Homo sapiens: one gene and its partners. The protein of the gene in region 2 purifies or fractionates together with the protein of the main gene of each other region. This does not show direct contact. Each region holds a gene or a part of one and is shown on either strand. Other genes may lie near its edges.

Region 1 (4,736 bases), on a different chromosome or scaffold from region 2:
TTGATCATTCTGTAAATGGTAGCAATAAGTGTATCAACACTTTGACCTCCTCTGTGTCTAGTAACATTTGCATATAGTACAACTGAGCACATAGCACCAGAATATTGGAACAGATGCTTCTCCAAAGCCAAGGGTTGCCTTACATTTAGAGTGGGAAAAGAGGAAAATGAGTTAGCAGAGGAGCAGCGGGGAGGGGGGTAAATTACAGGACATAATTTGCTTCTAAAAATTTGTGTTTCGTGTTGTAGTTATATAATTAACTTTTCTATTGTACTGATTGACAGATTTGGCACAGACATCCTCTCATTGTGAATATATATGAATATATCAGAGTTTTGGACTCTGGGGTATATTTACATAAACACAAGTATTCTGAAAGCATTGATAACCACACTGGTGTCTCTTAATTTTGTCTATAAGATGACCTTATAAAATCCCTCAAGAATTATTTAAATCAAGTGTACGAAGCTCTGCAGTTTTTTGTTATGTCTGAAATATTCATTAAAAAGTTTATTAAACCTGACAGCCTCTTCTTAATGTTTCACAAGCAAGACAAACTTTTATTTTTGTTTCTTCTTTAATTGGCATATGGAGCTTGGGAATATTAGTAGGAGAACAAGGAGACTATGTGAGGCATATAAAAGGCACCACACTGGAAAGAATCCAAGAGAATGAAAAATCACTTCTTTAAATAATATTTAGACACAGACTTTGTATCTATATTAGATATAAATCATGTCTAAATACAAATCTAAATAATATTTACAAATAATTATTACACAAAACCTATGTAACACACACTTTATAGTACACAACTGTAAATAAGAATACAAATCTCCACTGCTGTGGGTTCAAAACAGCAGGCTTGGACCACTCAAAAATGACATCTGAGAGGAATTAATAGTCATCCTGAAAGTTCTGCAGACAGACGCTAGCGGACAAACCACTTTGACACTTTTCATGCTATCATTCAGAAAAAAATAGAATACATGTAATACCAAATTAGGAACACTGATAATGAACATATATGCAAATTATATCTTCCAATGATATATCTGTGATATATGAAAATAATTTTGAAGAAATAAGCTTAAAATATAATTTACGGAATTCCAGAAAACTTTTTCTTCCTTCACTACATCCTCAGGAATAAGGCAATTGAGTGGATAACAGTTTGAATCTTACTTCAAAGTGTAGCTACAAAGTAAGAAAAAGCACTGGGCCAGGAGTCAGAATATCCAGGTTATAATCTTGATTCTTTCATGAAACAGCTTTGTGACACTGAAGGAATCTACTAAATTCTTTAGATTTAAATTGTTCTTGTCTGTAAAGCTGAAAATAAGAGAGAACTGGGCTAATCTGTAGGGTTCCTTTCACTCCAATTTCTACCAGTCTTTTTCTAAATGGGATCATCTCTAACAAAAAGTTACAATGGTGTGTCAGAACATCCTGTGACTGACCCTCTGTTTGCTGCTTTTTGATCTGATGACAGATGGCTTGGAGATGTATCAACAACATAATTGGGAGTAGATAAGCTGGCCACATTGATGAATGACTGAGAGGAGACTGCAAAGAAATAATATACCGTTTCATTTGCCCCTTAACACAAAGATGAATCAGCCTGTGGATGGGGTCAATTCACTGAACTAGAAAGGATTGATTATATATGCATAAAGTGCAAAAGCTATAGGTCTTTATAGCCATATCTGCTCACACATATATTCACTTTTCCATGCTAGTTATTCAGGATAGAAGGTGCATTAAATTTATACCAATTCCTAGCTACTGGCCTAGTAACTAACAATCTACAGAGTTGTAATGCATTAATAAATATAGGATTATAGAAGACATTTAGTATGTGATGTTACCTTTAAGTAACTCTCATAATTTTCTTTTTCCTTTTTTTCTTTTTTGAGATGGAGTTTTGCTTATTGCCCAGGCTAGAGTGCAGTGGCACAATCTTGGCTCACTGCAACCTCTGCCTTCCAGTTTCAAGCAATTCTCCTGCCTCAGTCTCCCAAGTAGCTGGGATTACAGGTGCCTGCCACCAGGCCCAGCTAATTTTTTTGTATTTTTAGTACAGACAGGGTTTCACCATGTTGTTCAGGCTGGTCTCAACTGCTGACCTCATGATCCACCCATCTCGGCCTCCCAAAGTGCTGGGATTACAGGTGTGAGACACCGCACCCAGCCCTTAACTGTCGTAATTTTCAAAGTAGTTTCATCTACTTTCCATCTCATTCCAACTCTAAAAGGTAGTAAGGACTGGAATTAACAACTCCAGATTACAGATGAAGAATCTGAGACTCAGAAAGATAAAGGAGCAGCTTTAGTGTCAAAAGGTCAGAAGTTTGTAAATGAAGAAGCTGAAGGTAGGCCCAGATGTGCTAACTGCTTGCCCAGCGCTCTTTCAAAATGCCACCTTGCCATCTTACAATGCATTATGCTGGTAATAGATACCCTGTGGATGTATCTGTATATCATATCATCACTGTCAGAAAAACAGCCTGAGGTTCTCTTGAATGACTTAAAGCTGACTTCCAGGCTGAGATGCGGCACTGTTAAGGGACAATGAGAGACCCACACAAATGTGCTGACAGCATAAACAAAAACAATTTTCACCAGTACCTAGTATGGAAAGGATTGCTGGCAGCACCTTGGCCTCTACCACCCTACACACACCTATAAAGCATCAGTCAGTCCCACCTCTTGACTGTATGCTTTGAGAACACGATTAAACAAGTCTGTTTAAAATTTCTTTTTTAAGGAAATCATTAGGTATATTCAAAAGGGTCATCCACTGTATTGTTTAGAATTTAAATGTACTAGAATTTTTCTGTGTTCTAATGTCTGATCAATTCTAAAATGCTAGTCAATTAATGGTCATCCATTTTCTTTTTTTAAAAAATGTGGCTCAACTACATGCAATGTGCTGAGCCAGTTTTGGAATCCACCCTGTAGCAGAGTAAAACTGGACCAAAGGAAGTGGAATCAGGGCCCCTGACTGTCACTTCTCCAGCTACACAACCTACAGTTTTTCTTCTTTATTGTGACGTGTGGTGATTCGTTTTGGATTCCTCTGTATGACAGGCAGGTCTGACCTTGAGGAAGACTGGTAGCCCACATCCTCTGCTTTTATGGGCTTAATGATATGGCCTGGCTTGGTGACGACCTTGGGAGTAGTCAGCTTTTGGAAAGCCCTCTGGGTGTTCCATGTGGATCCTATAGGGGTCTGGATGGTCCTTTCAAATTGCCGATGGTGGGTAAATGGATATGGAAGCACTTGTACCTGATGAGCTGCTGCGTGGATGTTGCGCTTCTCACTGATAATCACATTTGGCAAATTCTTATCTTTTCTTGGAGGACCCTCAGGGGCTTTAATGAGAAACTGGCGTCTTTTCTTGGCACTGGGCTTTAGGCCCACACCACCCCACTCGCCCCAGCCAGGTAGTGTCAGGTCCACGTCCTTTGGCTTACTCGCCTCCACAGCTTCCCTCTTCTCTTTCAAGAAATCTCTGATGACATCATCCCCAGCAAAAGCTTCCTTTATCATCTGCCTTTGGTCTCTCTCCTCTTCATCTTCCAGCTCCTCTATTATTGTGGGAACTGCCAAAGACCTCACGGAAGGAGACTGTGTGGTCAGGAAGTTCTGTAGGTTGATCAGTTGCTCCTTCTCTTTCTTCTCCTTAGGGGCATCAGGCCGATTATTTGGGGTCCTCTCTGACTGCTGTCCTTCTAACACAGGTCTGGGAAGCTCCTTATTTTGAAAACAATCTTCTTTTCCCAGCTCTTCTAGCTCTTCCAGAGTTTGTACTCTCTCTGACCTCTGTAGCAATAGGGGTTCCGCTTCTTCTGGGGCAGGTTCCTCTCTCTGGACCTGGGGAACAGTCCCCTCTGAACTTGCTTTTTGCTTCCTGGACTGATGTTTTTCCTTCAATTTCTGAGATAGTGCCCTCAATTCGGACAGCACCTCCTGGCTGCTAGAATCTTTTGTTTCTTGACTGCTTGCTGGCTCAGCATCCTGGTTGAGCTCAGATCTTTTTCTAAGGGATTGCCTTTCCTCAAATTCTCTCAACAAAATTTCTTCCTCTGCCACTGGTCTTTCTTCTGCCTCACTTGCAGAAACCTCATGAGCTGCAAGCTCTGGCACTTGCTCAGGGTCCTCCTGTGTTGCAGCCTCTTTGGTGTCACTGGTGCAGCTCCTGAACATCCAGGGATTCGGTCCGTCCACATTCATCTGCACTTCATTCGCTACATGAGGGACAAGGAGTTCTTCCACTTCTGTGCCTCCCTCCTCTTCCTCACTCTCAGAGGCTACCTGGAGTTTCTGTGTCAGTTCTTTGTTCTTGGCCAACTGTTCCTGCATAGCTTGGCGAGCCTCCAGGTCATATTTGGCCATAATTGCCTTTGACTTGGCCCATTTCCCACTGTTTTGGTGCTTAAGGCTCATTCTTTCCATCATTCTGGCATTTTCAATTTTTTCCATTTCTTCCAGTGCCACAGTTGGATTAACCTTCTGTAGCTGCTCAAACTCTTTTAAGGCTTTCTTGGCCTTTCCTTTCTTCACGACTTTGTGATACTTTTTACTTTTGATTTTCTTCTCTTTTCGAGCCTTGGCCTCATAGTAGGACTGCAGAGCCCGAGCCCTCTGAAGCTCTGCTCGGTGCATCTTTGCCTCTTCCAGGCTCATGGCTTGGAGAGAGGCCTTTTCCATGGGAGTCAGTAAAGGATCTGTC
Region 2 (7,051 bases):
GCACAGTGGCTCACACCTGTAATCCCAGCACTTTGGGAGGCTAAGGCAGGCGGATCACGAGGTCAAGAGATGGAGACCATCCTGGCCAACATCGTGAAGCCCCATCTCTATTAAAAATATGAAAATTAGCTGGGTGTGGTGGCAGATGCCTGTAGTCCCAGCTGCTCGGGGGGCTGGGGTAGGAGAATTGCTTGAACCCGGGAGGCGGAGGTTGCAGTGAGCCGAGATTACACTGTTGCACTCCAGCCTGGGCGACAGAGTGAGACGCCATTTTTAAAAAAAAAAAAAAGATTGTGGAGACCAAGGTTCTTTGAAGTCTCTTAGTGGCTGCCCTTAGAGACAACAGTCGACAAATGTTTCCTATTCAGACCTTTAAAAGGTGCTAGACTCTCAGTTAATCTCTTCAGGATTGGAGGGCCCAGAAGAAAAAGATCTGTGTTATTAGAGATTCTTTACAGATGTAAATTTTCCCCCATAAGGTACGACTTTGCAGGGCCATTTCAAAATATGGCAAAGTGGCCGGGTGCGGTGGCTTACTCCTGTAATCCCAGTACTTTGGGAGGCCAAGGCAGGCGGATCACCTGAGGTCAGAAGTTCGAGACCAGCCTGGCCAGCATGGCAAAACCCCATCTTTATTAACAATACAAAAATTAGCTGGGCATGGTGGTGGTGGGTGCCTGTAATCCCAGCTACTCGGGAGGCTGAGGCAGGAGAATCCCTTGAATCTGGGTGGGGGAGGTTGCAGTAAGCCAAGATCACCCCATTGCACTCCAGCCCGGGCAATAAGAGTGAAACTCTGTCCCGCCCCCCACCCCAAACCAAAAAACATATATATATATATATATATATATATATATATATATATATATATGGCAAAGAAACATGTTTTGGGGTAAAATATTTTGACTTTCTTCTTTATCACGTAATTTTATGCCAGAGTATGACTGAAAAGGCAGTCACAATATATAGTGTTAAATAAAACCCAACTGATAAGAATTTATGGTTTGTAGGGCATGACTCCCCAGACCCTTTCGATAGGAATTTGAGCAAGATAAGAAAAAATCAGAGCTTAGTCCTCATTAGGAACTGCCTCTTCTTCTCCTTTAAAAACCCACTTGTGACTTCTGCTAATTGGGAGCATATACTCAGGGCAACTTGAATCTTCGCTTCACAGTCTTCAAACTTGGCCCAAATAAACTCTCTACTTATATCAAGTTTGCCTTAGATTTTTCCCTTTAGGTTGACATTTCCCAGAAGTTTTAATCAGATGAAGAAAGCTCCCAGAAGGTTTATTTCTGCATCTATTGAATCTGAAATGTCTTCGGCTTAAAATAATTGTTATACCAACTCTGGTGTTCTGAATGGGTCCCCACACAGCAAAGAATAGAGCCAGAATGTTGCATTTGTGAAAGGAAAATAAAAACTCAGGACTCCAGTTGACTATGCCAAAAGGAAAAAAAATAAACTGAAAACTGAGTCATGCAAGAAGCTGCCTTTCCTTTTGTTCCTAAGCAGATAGCTACAGACAAAAGGTTAAATATTTACAAAATTAGCCGGGTGTGGTGGCACATGCCTGTAATCCCAGCTACTCAGTAGGCTGAGGCAGGAGAATCACTTGAACCCGGGAGGCAGAGGTTGTGGTGAGCCGAGATTGCGCCATTGCACTCCAGCCTGGTCAACAACAGCGAAAACTCTGTCTCAAAAAAAAAAAAACAAAAAAAACACAAAAGGTTAAATATCTCCACAGGCATATTTACTTTATCTTATGTAAAGTGCCAGACGAACACATAATTGAGTATCTCCCTACCTGCTCCTTTTCTCTTGCGACATGTGGATTACCATACCCTTCTTCTTTCCCTCCAGCTCACTTTTCCCCTTTAAATATTGAAGCCCTCAAAATCATCTTTGGAGAAAGCCACAGACCACAGACTGTTTCTGCGATTCCGTGTTTATTTCTTCCAGCCATGTCCTTAACCTTGGCAAAATAAACCTCTAAATTGATTGAGACCTGTCTCAGACATGTTTTGCTTGACACATCCAAATTCCAGTTCCAGCACTTACTAGCTAGCTGTGGGATCTTGAGCCACTTACTTAATCCTACTTTCCTTCTCCGTAAAATGGGGATAATTATAATACCGACTTCCAAATTTGTTGTGAGGATTAACGTAAGGCAGAGTCCTCAGAAAAGTACCTACAGAGGGTTATTCGGGCCAAGGGCCAAGGTTGAGGACTGCGACCCAGGACACACTTGCAAGTTGTCTTGGGGGAGCACTCTGGACAACAAAAGAGAGGCTCATATTTTCAAAGAAAAAAAGATGAATTAGGAGAGGAAATGAATACAAAAGTTGTTCATCAGGAATTCTCATTGTTTACAGAAATAACACTGGTTATACATTGTTTAGCGCTTGGCTATACATTGTTGAACTATAAGGTGTATGGCATTTAATGGCTACTTGGCATAGCAAGTGGTTTCAAGAGATAATTACTTAGCTCAAAGAAGAGTGAGAGTGACTGTTGCTACATTTTAAATGCCTGTCTGGGCCTGATAATTTAAAGGGGCTCATCTTCCTTAGATAAAAAGGTTTTGTTTTGTTTTGTTTTTCATAGTACATAATCTTAAAAATGCATGCTAATTATTACTGTGAGTACTCTATCTGAGATGATGTCCCCAGAACTGGGGGGAAAAAACACTTGTAAAAAATTATCAAAGGAAAGAACTGACAGGACTTGATAGCTCTGAGGATTCCTCAGAAGCACTCGTCAAACAGCTTAGGGTTTAATTGCTATTCTGCCACTTAACTTCTTTGTGCCTCATCCTATCTGTAAAGGAGGGTAATAATAGTATTTGCAGGGACCAAGGGAAACTTTCCCTTCGCCCTCTGAAATTCTGCTGAAAAATCAACCCACAAAAAACAGATTAATTGAAGAAAAGGCATAGAAATTGTATTAATGTGTCCACGGGGAACCACAGAGTGACTACCCACTTCCCAGACGAGTTCAGAAGCTTAGGTGTCATTCAGGCAAAGGGGGTTGTGGGAGTGAGGGGAAGAGGAATTCTGCTGAGGGAGAAGGAATGGATCAGGGAACAGATTAACTAGCACATTATCATGTGAAGGGGTCTGTTCAGGTGTGATTATATTCTTGGTTTTGTAGGGAGGGGAAGAAAAAAACCGTTGTTCCTTTTGATGGGTCTGGACGCTAGGTAACGGCTTTGGGAGAGAGGGCGCGGGAGTAGGAAGGCCAGACACACCTTAAGGCTTAACTTAGTAAGTCAAACCACCATATTTTGGGTATGGATTTCTGAGCCCCAATATAATAGGTACTTCTTAGGGTTGTTGTGAGAATTGAAGATTATTAATTATAAAGTGCCTGGGTTGGTGCTTGGCACATCATAAACAACTCCATAAATGCTCGCTTTTACTGTCGTGGATACACGGAGGTGGGAGACCCAATTGGGTTCCCGCCCATGTTATTGGCCCCCACGGCTATATGGTCTTTACGGCTTCCTAGTCTCTTCACCATCTCTAAGGTTTGTTTCCTCATCTGAATCACAGGTGAGTGATTCTCAGGGTGACTCAAGAGGGCTGGTGCCAGTGGCAGAGCATGGGGAATCGAGGGAAGGCGCCTTCCTGTCAGAGGCAACACACCCAGTGGGAGGATCCTGCCCGCCCTGCTCTCTCCTACCTCCCCTTCCCGGGCTAAACGCTGGGGTCGGTCTGGCAGCTATTCCGGGAATCTGAGCGCGGATTCTGACAAAGGAGACGTCTTCCACCGACCACATCACATGGAGCTCCAAAGCACGAGCACGGCCTCCCGCGGCTGTGACCTCAAGGCGGAGCCCCTGGTGACCTCAGGGAGAGTCCCCACCCCCGCAGCCCGTGCGCCCGGGGCAGGGCGGGGGCAGGGAGAGGGGGCGGAATCGGGGCGGTCCCGGGAGCGCCCCGCCCCCTCCGCCTCCGCAGCGTTGACAGCCGCCCGCCACCGAGAGATCAGCTGTCAGAGATCAGAGGAAGAGGAAGGGGCGGAGCTGCTTTGCGGCCGGCCGCGGAGCAGTCAGCCGACTACAGAGAAGGGTAATCGGGTGTCCCCGGCGCCGCCCGGGGCCCTGAGGGCTGGCTAGGGTCCAGGCCGGGGGGGACGGGACAGACGAACCAGCCCCGTGTAGGAAGCGCGACAATGCCCCGCTACGGAGCGTCACTCCGCCAGAGCTGCCCCAGGTCCGGCCGGGAGCAGGGACAAGACGGGACCGCCGGAGCCCCCGGACTCCTTTGGATGGGCCTGGTGCTGGCGCTGGCGCTGGCGCTGGCGCTGGCGCTGGCTCTGTCTGACTCTCGGGTTCTCTGGGCTCCGGCAGAGGCTCACCCTCTTTCTCCCCAAGGCCATCCTGCCAGGTTACATCGCATAGTGCCCCGGCTCCGAGATGTCTTTGGGTGGGGGAACCTCACCTGCCCAATCTGCAAAGGTCTATTCACCGCCATCAACCTCGGGCTGAAGGTGAGCACTGAAGGGGCTGCAGTGGAGGAGGCCGAAAGGAGTGCTGGGGCTGGGGGCTGGGGCTGATGCTGGTGCGCTGGGCTCAGAATGCATCCCTGATGGAGAGGGTGGCATCTACAATCCATCACTGAGTTTGCTCCCCTTTGGGGACACCCATGGCTACATGCCACCATCACCCCATTGTGACCTTTGTGAAGTAAGAAAATAATGCAGACAGTGCCTGAGGAAGTCAGCTTGCCAAGCAAAGGCCTCATGCCACAGGCCGCTGAGCTAAAGAAGAAGCGATGGCCTGGTGCTGCCTGAGTTACAGGGCAATATCTGGAAGGCAAAGGTGTGCACTGAGCTTGGTGCACTGAGTCCTGCCCAGCCCCAGTTTGGAAATGGAGGCCCAAGGGGTGGTGGCCAGGGGTTGGCCTGGTTCCTCTGCTCTGCCTCTGATTTCTCACCATGCGCTCCTCCCACTGCAGAAGGAACCCAATGTGGCTCGCGTGGGCTCCGTGGCCATCAAGCTGTGCAATCTGCTGAAGATAGCACCACCTGCCGTGTGCCAATCCATTGTCCACCTCTTTGAGGATGACATGGTGGAGGTGTGGAGACGCTCAGTGCTGAGCCCATCTGAGGCCTGTGGCCTGCTCCTGGGCTCCACCTGTGGGCACTGGGACATTTTCTCATCTTGGAACATCTCTTTGCCTACTGTGCCGAAGCCGCCCCCCAAACCCCCTAGCCCCCCAGCCCCAGGTGCCCCTGTCAGCCGCATCCTCTTCCTCACTGACCTGCACTGGGATCATGACTACCTGGAGGGCACGGACCCTGACTGTGCAGACCCACTGTGCTGCCGCCGGGGTTCTGGCCTGCCGCCCGCATCCCGGCCAGGTGCCGGATACTGGGGCGAATACAGCAAGTGTGACCTGCCCCTGAGGACCCTGGAGAGCCTGTTGAGTGGGCTGGGCCCAGCCGGCCCTTTTGATATGGTGTACTGGACAGGAGACATCCCCGCACATGATGTCTGGCACCAGACTCGTCAGGACCAACTGCGGGCCCTGACCACCGTCACAGCACTTGTGAGGAAGTTCCTGGGGCCAGTGCCAGTGTACCCTGCTGTGGGTAACCATGAAAGCACACCTGTCAATAGCTTCCCTCCCCCCTTCATTGAGGGCAACCACTCCTCCCGCTGGCTCTATGAAGCGATGGCCAAGGCTTGGGAGCCCTGGCTGCCTGCCGAAGCCCTGCGCACCCTCAGGTACTTATCGTCCGTGGAAACCCAGGAAGGGAAAAGAAAGGTGAATGAAAGTGAAGGGAGAAGGGAACCTGGGGCATTGTCTCTGATTGCTCTAGCATGAGTCCTTAGTGCTCTTCATTTGGCTCCCCTAATCTGACTCCTCCTTCCCTTTCTACTGTTTTGCCGCACCAGGCTTTTTTTTTTTTTTTTTTTTTAGTTTAGTTTTTGTAGAGACAAGATCTTGCTATGTTGCCCAGGCTGGTCTCAAACACCTAACCTCAAGCAATCCTCCCGCCTCGGCCTCCCAAAATGCTGGGACCACAGGCATCAGCTACTGCTCCTGGCCCTCCCTTTTTTTTTTTTTTTTTTTTTTTTTTTTTGAGATGGAATCTTGCTCTGTTGCCCAGGCTGGAGTGCAGTGGCACCATCTCAGCTCACTACAGCCTCCACCTCCTGGGTTCAAGCAATTCTGCCTCAGCCTCCCAAGTACCTGGGACTACAGGTGCACGCCACCACACCCAGCTAATTTTTGTATTTTTAGTAGAGATGGGGTTTCACCATGTTGGCCAAGATGGTCTTGATCTCCTGACCTCATGATCTGCCCACCTCGGCCTCCCAAAGTGCTGGGATTACAGGCATGAACCACTGCACCCAGCTTTCCAGCCCTCCCTTTCTACTCTTATCTCCAGCCACCCTCCTTCAAAGGTCTGGCAGCATAACCTCTCTATGCCCCAGCTGTGTCTTTGCTCATGTTGGCCCTCTGGAAATGATTTCCCCCTTTTTTTTAAGTGCTCCAGTTTTTCCCACCTTATCCATCCCATGTCATCTTCCCTCTGTGTGGTCCTTGCTTCCCATTCTAGCTAACTCTTATCCCTCCCCCATACTCCTGGAGCCCTCTGCCCTCAGAGTCTTTTGTGTCACACAGACCCAATAATTAGAACTGTTTGGTCTCTGGCTAGACTGTGAGCTCCTTGCAGGTGGGGAAGATGTCATGTATGCTTTTACCCTCCACCCAAATGCCCAGCACAGGAGGACCAGGATTGGAACAAGTGTTGACCTCTCATGTTTACTTTGTTTCAGAATTGGGGGGTTCTATGCTCTTTCCCCATACCCCGGTCTCCGCCTCATCTCTCTCAATATGAATTTTTGTTCCCGTGAGAACTTCTGGCTCTTGATCAACTCCACGGATCCCGCAGGACAGCTCCAGTGGCTGGTGGGGGAGCTTCAGGCTGCTGAGGATCGAGGAGACAAAGTGAGGGCCAGTAGTGGGAACACGGTGGTGCTGGGGGACAAGCAGGCTCCTGTTGAGCTGGAGCACCTCTGGGCACAGAAGTTTTA
Region 3 (7,033 bases), on a different chromosome or scaffold from region 2:
ATTATTTTAAGAAAGTCACAGCAGAAACAATGATTATTTAAAACTTGGCTCTGGAAGAAATTCTCTTCACCTAGCTCTCCCTAAATATGGATATTCATACTAAATAATGGTCCCAAAGTCCCTATAAAAACTCAGAGGGCAGGAAGACCAGCAAACAGTATGTGTACTGATTAAACATTAGGAAAGACTTAACAATAATTGCAAATTTATTTGGAGGATTTCTTTAAATAGATAAAATACAAAATTCATTTCATCACATGCAAGAGCAGGCAGAACTGTACTTTTATCCTACCTACATAGTTGGAATGTAATATGTTAGGATGGTGACTCTGTGGGGTAAGGCTACCCAGCTCTTTAAGGGCCAGAGAAAACTGGTTTTTGGTTTATGCTGGATTAAAAACAAAAAAGAAAAAAGACAGCTCTGGCTCTAATTATACTCGGGATTTCTCATTCCATAATAACTTACAAAAAAAAAGCATTGTGCAAAGTTCCATTTTATATCAGGACACAAAAAGGGGTAGACTAATAAGGGGGGAGAAAAGTTCACTAAAGATTTGAGAAAAATACCCTATCAGGCAGATAGTACTCAACTACCCAATGAATGAAATATTTTAAAACGTGAGAGTAAAATGTTGAGACAATAAAGATGTTTTACAACAGCTATAAAAATTATAATAATGATAATTATCTTTTAAATATTCAAACAATGTGTTTATTATGCTTTTCAATAGAATTTCAATGAGAAAGTCATAATTTTGGATACATGTATTCTATCTTTATATTTTGTACGCCACAGGCTTGCTCTATACTGTTTTACTAGGCATTGAGACAATATAAATTACAGTATTTTTCTTTCCTTCCTTATGGATATGTTTTAAAAACAATATAGAGGCTCTTATAAAAGCTGAGAGAAATATGGCAAAAATTCTTTCATAAATCATATTGGTGCTTTTATTGAAAAAACTTTTTATGGATAACAACTATACATAGAAACCAGCTTATTTTCTGTTACCTCATCCTCTGACCCAGACTTATTTGATTGATTACTTTCTTCTTGCCCTTCTATGATTTCAATTTCTTCTTCACTCTTTTCCTCAGGTTCACTTTCCTCTTCTAGAATACAGATTTTGTTAAAAGCAAAGACTCAATAAATTAGAATTTTGCTACTGAAAAGTATTAAATACAATAAATGGGATTTATTTAAATTCCAAGATTTATTCCAAGATTTAGAAGCAACTTCTTCCATTCAAAATTTTAAAAATTATAAATACTCATTATATTATCATATTTTATAAATGAATCATATTTGAGTTTGGGGACAAGTTTAAAAAATTCTTAAGCATTCAGTCTGTATGTAATATGAAAACCAAAAAATAATAATCTTTCCTGTGTTCCTGTCTTGGAAAATACTTCCTTTAATTTTTGGTGATCTTTTAATCTTCAATATGTTATTTACTTATGTTTGTTCTCTGTGGACATCATGCATTTTTTCAGTTATTGACCCTCCTTAGGATTCCATTTAGCAGAACCTCCAACTTTTGTCATCATTATTAACCAAAAGATATTAAGCACGTCCTAGGAGCTATATAAAGTAAAAACTCCTACCCTACCAAGAATGGGCTTTGGGGAAAGGGAAGTTGAAAAATCAACTCTACTTCTTCTACGTAGTTCCAATGTGGGACTACGTGTATAGATGAAAGTGGTGAAAGTACCTTTATACAAGCAGGCCCCTCCGATACTTAAATTCCCTCTAAATAAGGCTGATCCAGACATCAATATACTAAGCACTAAGAAGTTACAAAAACAAGGCTGGAAACTTACAACCTGAAACATTTGTTGTTTTAGATACCTATCCTAATACACACATGAACATGTGTATGTATATGTGTGTATATATATATATACTGTCTCTTAAAAAATAGATAGACACATATGTGTTTTTAAGTCAACTGTTTCATTAAGTGAGTTAAACACTGTGCTTCAAGACATTTGGCTTGGGACACTGGGCAAATCAATAGTTTTATTTCTACCTTATGTAAGGAGGTCTCAGCGGACAGCCACCAAAGGGTGACTTCAGTTCTAACATCTTCAAGAGTTTAACATAGGGTGAGAAGGGGATATAGGTTCAGCAATCCTTTCAGAAAATTAATTAAATTATTTCTTCTATATGATAAGCATCTGACTAACAATAGCTGTTGGAAGACTTGGTGTTGATTTTGTTGCTGCAATCATCTGTTTTATATCTATTCCTTTTCTACAGAGGCCATGATATACACCCTCTATCACCCTCCATCTCATCTTCTACACTCCCAGAGCCAAGAAACATCCTTGCAAAAAGCTATGGCCTATGGGATTCATTAACTGCTAGGCTCTCAAGCAACTGAACACTATTTAAATCTCCTTCTTCCTAGAATGCAAAAACTATAAACAGGGTGGCTGCTCAGAGGACTATTATTCCTTCTTGCCACAGTCACATATTCTTGGGAGATTCAGATGTATAAACTTGATAATAAACAAGTATAATAACTAGTTATTTCAAGGCCATATACAGTTTTATGAGCTTTACCCAGAGTCTCCATTATAAATCACTCTCATCATCTTACCTTTTTCAAGCATTTCACCATCATTTTGCTTTTTTTCCTCTTCCAGGTCCATTGGTTTTTCCAGGGCTGCTTTCTCTTCCTTTTCTTCTTGCTCTAGTACTCCTTTTGTTTGTGGTATACATATGTCGGTTTTTTTATACTCTGTATCTTTATGTTTTTTCTGTGGTAGTTAACATAAGTTATTTTTACTAAAGGCAGAGTGCTATTTTGAAAGTTTTTTTGCAATAATTGATAACATACATAATGAACTATCAGTAAAACTTATGAGACATTTAGTTTATTACTTTTAAGAATCGCTTAATTTATAGAACTCTTAAACAACAAGAAATTTGGGTGAAAAAAGTTGAAGGAAATCCATTTTCTTTACCTTTACTTTTCTTGGCCAACAAAATGAAGTAATTAATGCTATTGGCACTCCTGCTGTCACAAGATAAATCAACCAAAGCCATGGGTGCCCTTCAGCAGCTGCCATTAACTGTTTTAATACACCAGGCTATAGACGAGATAAGCATAAAAATGCAATTCAAATTTTACAAACCTTTACTGGGTAACACAAGATACAAAAAAACTTATTTACTCAGGCATTTTACATTAAGGAGTGATGAACTCGTAAGTAAAAGAAGTTTCATTTTCCCACCTTATACTTTGTAAAGTCTAATTTAATTATTAGCATGCATCACTGAGTGAGACTTGATAGCAGAAGGTATGTTATGACAAAAGTGGAAACTTCTAACATACTGGCAAGAAAAATGGTAATTTTCCTTTTTGGTAAATTTCAGAATAGAACTACCTTTTATGGATGTATTACCTGGTTTATTTGAAGTGATCATTCATTCTGTACTCTGATCATTCATTCTGTACTTTTAAAGAACTTACTAAAAATCATACCTCAGAATTGTTTTCTTTTTTATATAAACACATTTCACACATAAGACCCTCAGTAAGGATATTATTTCTCTTATTAAAATAAAATTTAAAAAATCAAATGTTTTAGTTACAAGAGGTTCAAAACAAGAATCCCTCTTCACCTACTCTTTTGATGGTTTTTCGCTAGTGACCCAAGGAACCAAATGTAAGGTAAGAATTTTTCTTTATAGCAACTGAATTTAATGATACATTTTCTAAGATGCATTGTGTTGAAATATTTAGCCCAACCTTTTCTAAACAGTGTTAAGGTTTCGGGAAAAAACTGGAACAGAATTTAATAATGTTAAACTATAAATTCTTTGTACATTCCTCTAAGTAAAAAATAGTTAAATAAACAGTAATATTTAGATTATCATTGTCACTTAGGTCTTGAACTGGCAAGATGACAAAGATATTAAGTAGTCTTCTTCTATGAACAGTAAATAAGCATTAAATCCCATTAGTGATGTTATAATTTAATGAATAAAATGAGGACTTACATATGCATATATAGCTCATAATGAAGTAACATAAAAAGCAAAATATTCTGTCTACATAAACTTATTCAAACACATTTCCTTGGCATTTAGTAGTTACTGCACATTTATTTGCATTTAAAAGAGCCATCTGAATAACCTACAACCAAGACCAAGTATTATTATTCATAGTTATATCACTACTGCTATTGGTCAACACCATACCTTATTAGCATTTGCTATCATTATTTTCCATCTCCAACCATCTGCAGCCCAGTGATCTGCTACTTCCTTTTCCGAACAGATAATAAAATTATCAAAGTAGATATCAGAGGTCATAGACCAAAGCTCTAAACCAAGAGCACTGAAAGAAGTCAGAAGAAATGGATGATCATCTTCGAAATAATCTGGATTAGGAATTTTTCGAGGACTCCAGATTCCCTGGAAGAAAAGTAATTGAAGACATTTTCAAATAAAATAACTTCATTATAAATGCTGCTTAATAAGTAGCTGCTGTTGAATGAAATTCGCAATGCTAACTGGAAAAAAGAGAATTTTAACTGATATTAATTCATTAGTAATATACTGGATATAAAATCTTGTTTCTTTTGCTGTGTACACAATGTTCCCTACGAGTGATACTAACTTTAAATTCTGCAAGAAAAGGAAAAGGGAAAATCCAACATAAACAGAAACGTGAATAAATTTCACAATTTGTCTACTTTGGACAAATTTTTAGATTTAGTAAAGTTATTCATTGCAAAATGTTATTCAAGTTGTCCAAATCAGAAAGATCATTGTATAGCAAAAATGGAGTTACTCCATTTAACATATACCCATGACAGATATCATTAATCAGGTATGGTTGAATCTCGGCACAACTACTCAACCTAAAACTTCCATTAGATCTTAAATGATTAAACTGTCCATTAAATCAAATACATTCAACAATATCATTGCTCACTGACTCACTCCACCATCACATGTATGTATTCTGGGCCAGGCACTATGCCAGATGATGGAGACATACATGGTTCCTGTATTATGGAGTTTAAAGTCAAATAAAAGAGACAGACATCAAACAAAAAAATTTACCAAAAGAAACATTTTGTGTTAAATGCTTTTAATAAAAACTACAGTGAGTAATTAGAATATGAAACTGCATATATATAATGTTAGAACGTATCCATAAATAATTACAAAGATAAAACTAGAGGGTTAAGTGGATAACATAGAAACTTTTAATATAAAAAGCTAGGTACACTCAAAAGATGTCGATTGATATCAGAAAAAAATCAGGGCTGGGTTCGGTGGCTTACTTCTGTAACCTGAGCACTTTGGGAGGCCAAGGTGGGCGGATCACGGTCAGGAGTTCGAGACCAGCCTGACCAACATGTGAAACCCCGTCTCCGCTAAAAATACAAAAGTTAGCCGGGCGTGCTGGGGTGTGCCTGTAATCTCAGCTACGTAGGAGGGTGAATCAGGAGAATCGCCTGAGCCCAGGAGGCAGAGGCTGCAGTGAGCCAAGATCACGCCAGGCCAGGTTTTTTGTTTTTTTGTTTTTTTGTTTTGAGTCTTGCTGTGTCGCCAGGCGGGAGTGCAGTGGCACGATCTCAGCTCACTGCGATCTCCACCTCCAGGGTCCAAGAGATTCCCCTGCCTCAGCCTCCTGAGTAGCTGGGACTACAGGCGTGCGCCACCACATCTGGCTAATTTTTTGTATTTTTAGTGGAGACAGGGTTTCACCATGTTGACCAGGGTGGTCTCCATCTCCTGACCTCGTGATCCGCCCGCCTTGGACTCCCAAAGTGCTGGGATTACAGGCATGAGCCACCGTACCTGGCCAAAAATCAGAATTTTAATAATACTAAATAATAAGTACATTAATTAAGCACAGGCATTAATTACTAAAATGTACAATATGAGTCTATTTGATCAAAATTCACTTCTTATATTTACTTCTAAAATAGAACTTTATTTCAAAGTGAGCATCAACTGATAATTAGGGAAGAATATAGTATGAAGTGATTTATTTCCCCAGAAAATTAAATAATTGATGCTCTACTTTTAAAATATAAATTAGTTGAGGTCTATTTTCTTTGACATCTTAAAATTAAAAATGAAACTTCCAAAAGTTGACATAGGTAATTAGATATTTAAATAGAAAAGATCACAACATTTTTAACTTCACTAAATAATTGGAACAAGCGGTTGTTACCTGATAGTTAGGATTATCGACCAGTGGAGGTCTCCATACTCCTTTGTATTTTGGGTTATCTATCATGGGAGGTTTCCACTCACCACACCCAATCCGACATGCTGGATTAAGAATCTGAGGTGCCTCCCATTCTCCATCCGTGTCTTCATTCCTTAGGATATTAAAACAAAGCAAATACAGTAACCTCAAGTCTCAGATCAGTCATATAAACTAGTAACAAAAATGCATGTAAGAAACATTTGAAATCGACATTTGAAGATGAAGAGTGCTTACCAGTCATCAGGTTTTTCAGCATTAGGATCAGGGATAAATTTTGGTTCATCATCAAGCCAGCCAGCAGGTTTAACAACACTTGAATCTTCTATTTGGGCAGGTTCACTTTCATCCCTGTAAATACAACGTTTTATATTACTAATTATTCAGAAAGTTTAAAAATGCATGTTACAACACTAAGAAGGTACCATAAAATTATTTCCCTCCCTTTTGTTTGTGCCTGTTATTTGTCCTCATCTACTACCCACCTAAATCTTTTGCTAACTTGCCAATTTTTGGTACATATTCCCTGTTGTGCTCTATGCATACATGCACACACGTATACATTCTTTTTTTTAATACGAATGATAGCATTCTATACATAATGTATTAGACCTTGCTTTTGTTACTTAAAAACTCAGTCATTCATCAACAAATATATATTGCATGCTTACTATGTGTCAAGACTGTTCGAGGAGCTCCATTATTATTATTTTTTTCTTGAGGTGGAGTCTTGTTCTTGTTTCCCAGGCTGGAGTGCAATAGTGCGACCTCAGCTCACTGCAACCTCTGCCTTC

Evidence for each region. Proteins that work in one complex are often made in the same cells at the same time.
Region 1: the proteins of SMPD1 (region 2) and ALG11 purify together in Homo sapiens (affinity purification with mass spectrometry; 2 studies listed by BioGRID and IntAct, with this or other methods). This does not show direct contact.
Region 3: the proteins of SMPD1 (region 2) and CLGN purify together in Homo sapiens (co-immunoprecipitation; 2 studies listed by BioGRID and IntAct, with this or other methods). This does not show direct contact.

The regions. Positions count from the first base shown.
Region 1 is NC_000013.11:52,029,398-52,034,133, reverse strand, and holds the end of ALG11 (GDP-Man:Man(3)GlcNAc(2)-PP-Dol alpha-1,2-mannosyltransferase), read right to left. Parts: coding exon of another isoform or gene 3,029-4,736; 3' UTR 534-3,028; downstream 1-533. Other genes in the region: UTP14C (U3 small nucleolar RNA-associated protein 14 homolog C), read right to left, coding at 3,029-4,736. UniProt on the Homo sapiens protein: GDP-Man:Man(3)GlcNAc(2)-PP-Dol alpha-1,2-mannosyltransferase that operates in the biosynthetic pathway of dolichol-linked oligosaccharides, the glycan precursors employed in protein asparagine (N)-glycosylation.
Region 2 is NC_000011.10:6,386,423-6,393,473, forward strand, and holds the start of SMPD1 (sphingomyelin phosphodiesterase isoform 1 precursor), read left to right. Parts: upstream 1-4,051; 5' UTR 4,052-4,176; coding exon 4,177-4,494; intron 4,495-4,961; coding exon 4,962-5,734; coding exon of another isoform or gene 5,735-5,774; intron 5,775-6,793; coding exon 6,794-6,965; intron 6,966-7,051. UniProt on the Homo sapiens protein: Converts sphingomyelin to ceramide. Exists as two enzymatic forms that arise from alternative trafficking of a single protein precursor, one that is targeted to the endolysosomal compartment, whereas the other is released extracellularly.
Region 3 is NC_000004.12:140,389,616-140,396,648, forward strand, and holds part of CLGN (calmegin precursor), read right to left. Parts: intron 6,591-7,033; coding exon 6,477-6,590; intron 6,355-6,476; coding exon 6,204-6,354; intron 4,427-6,203; coding exon 4,211-4,426; intron 3,097-4,210; coding exon 2,971-3,096; intron 2,764-2,970; coding exon 2,604-2,763; intron 1,114-2,603; coding exon 1,013-1,113; intron 1-1,012. UniProt on the Homo sapiens protein: Functions during spermatogenesis as a chaperone for a range of client proteins that are important for sperm adhesion onto the egg zona pellucida and for subsequent penetration of the zona pellucida.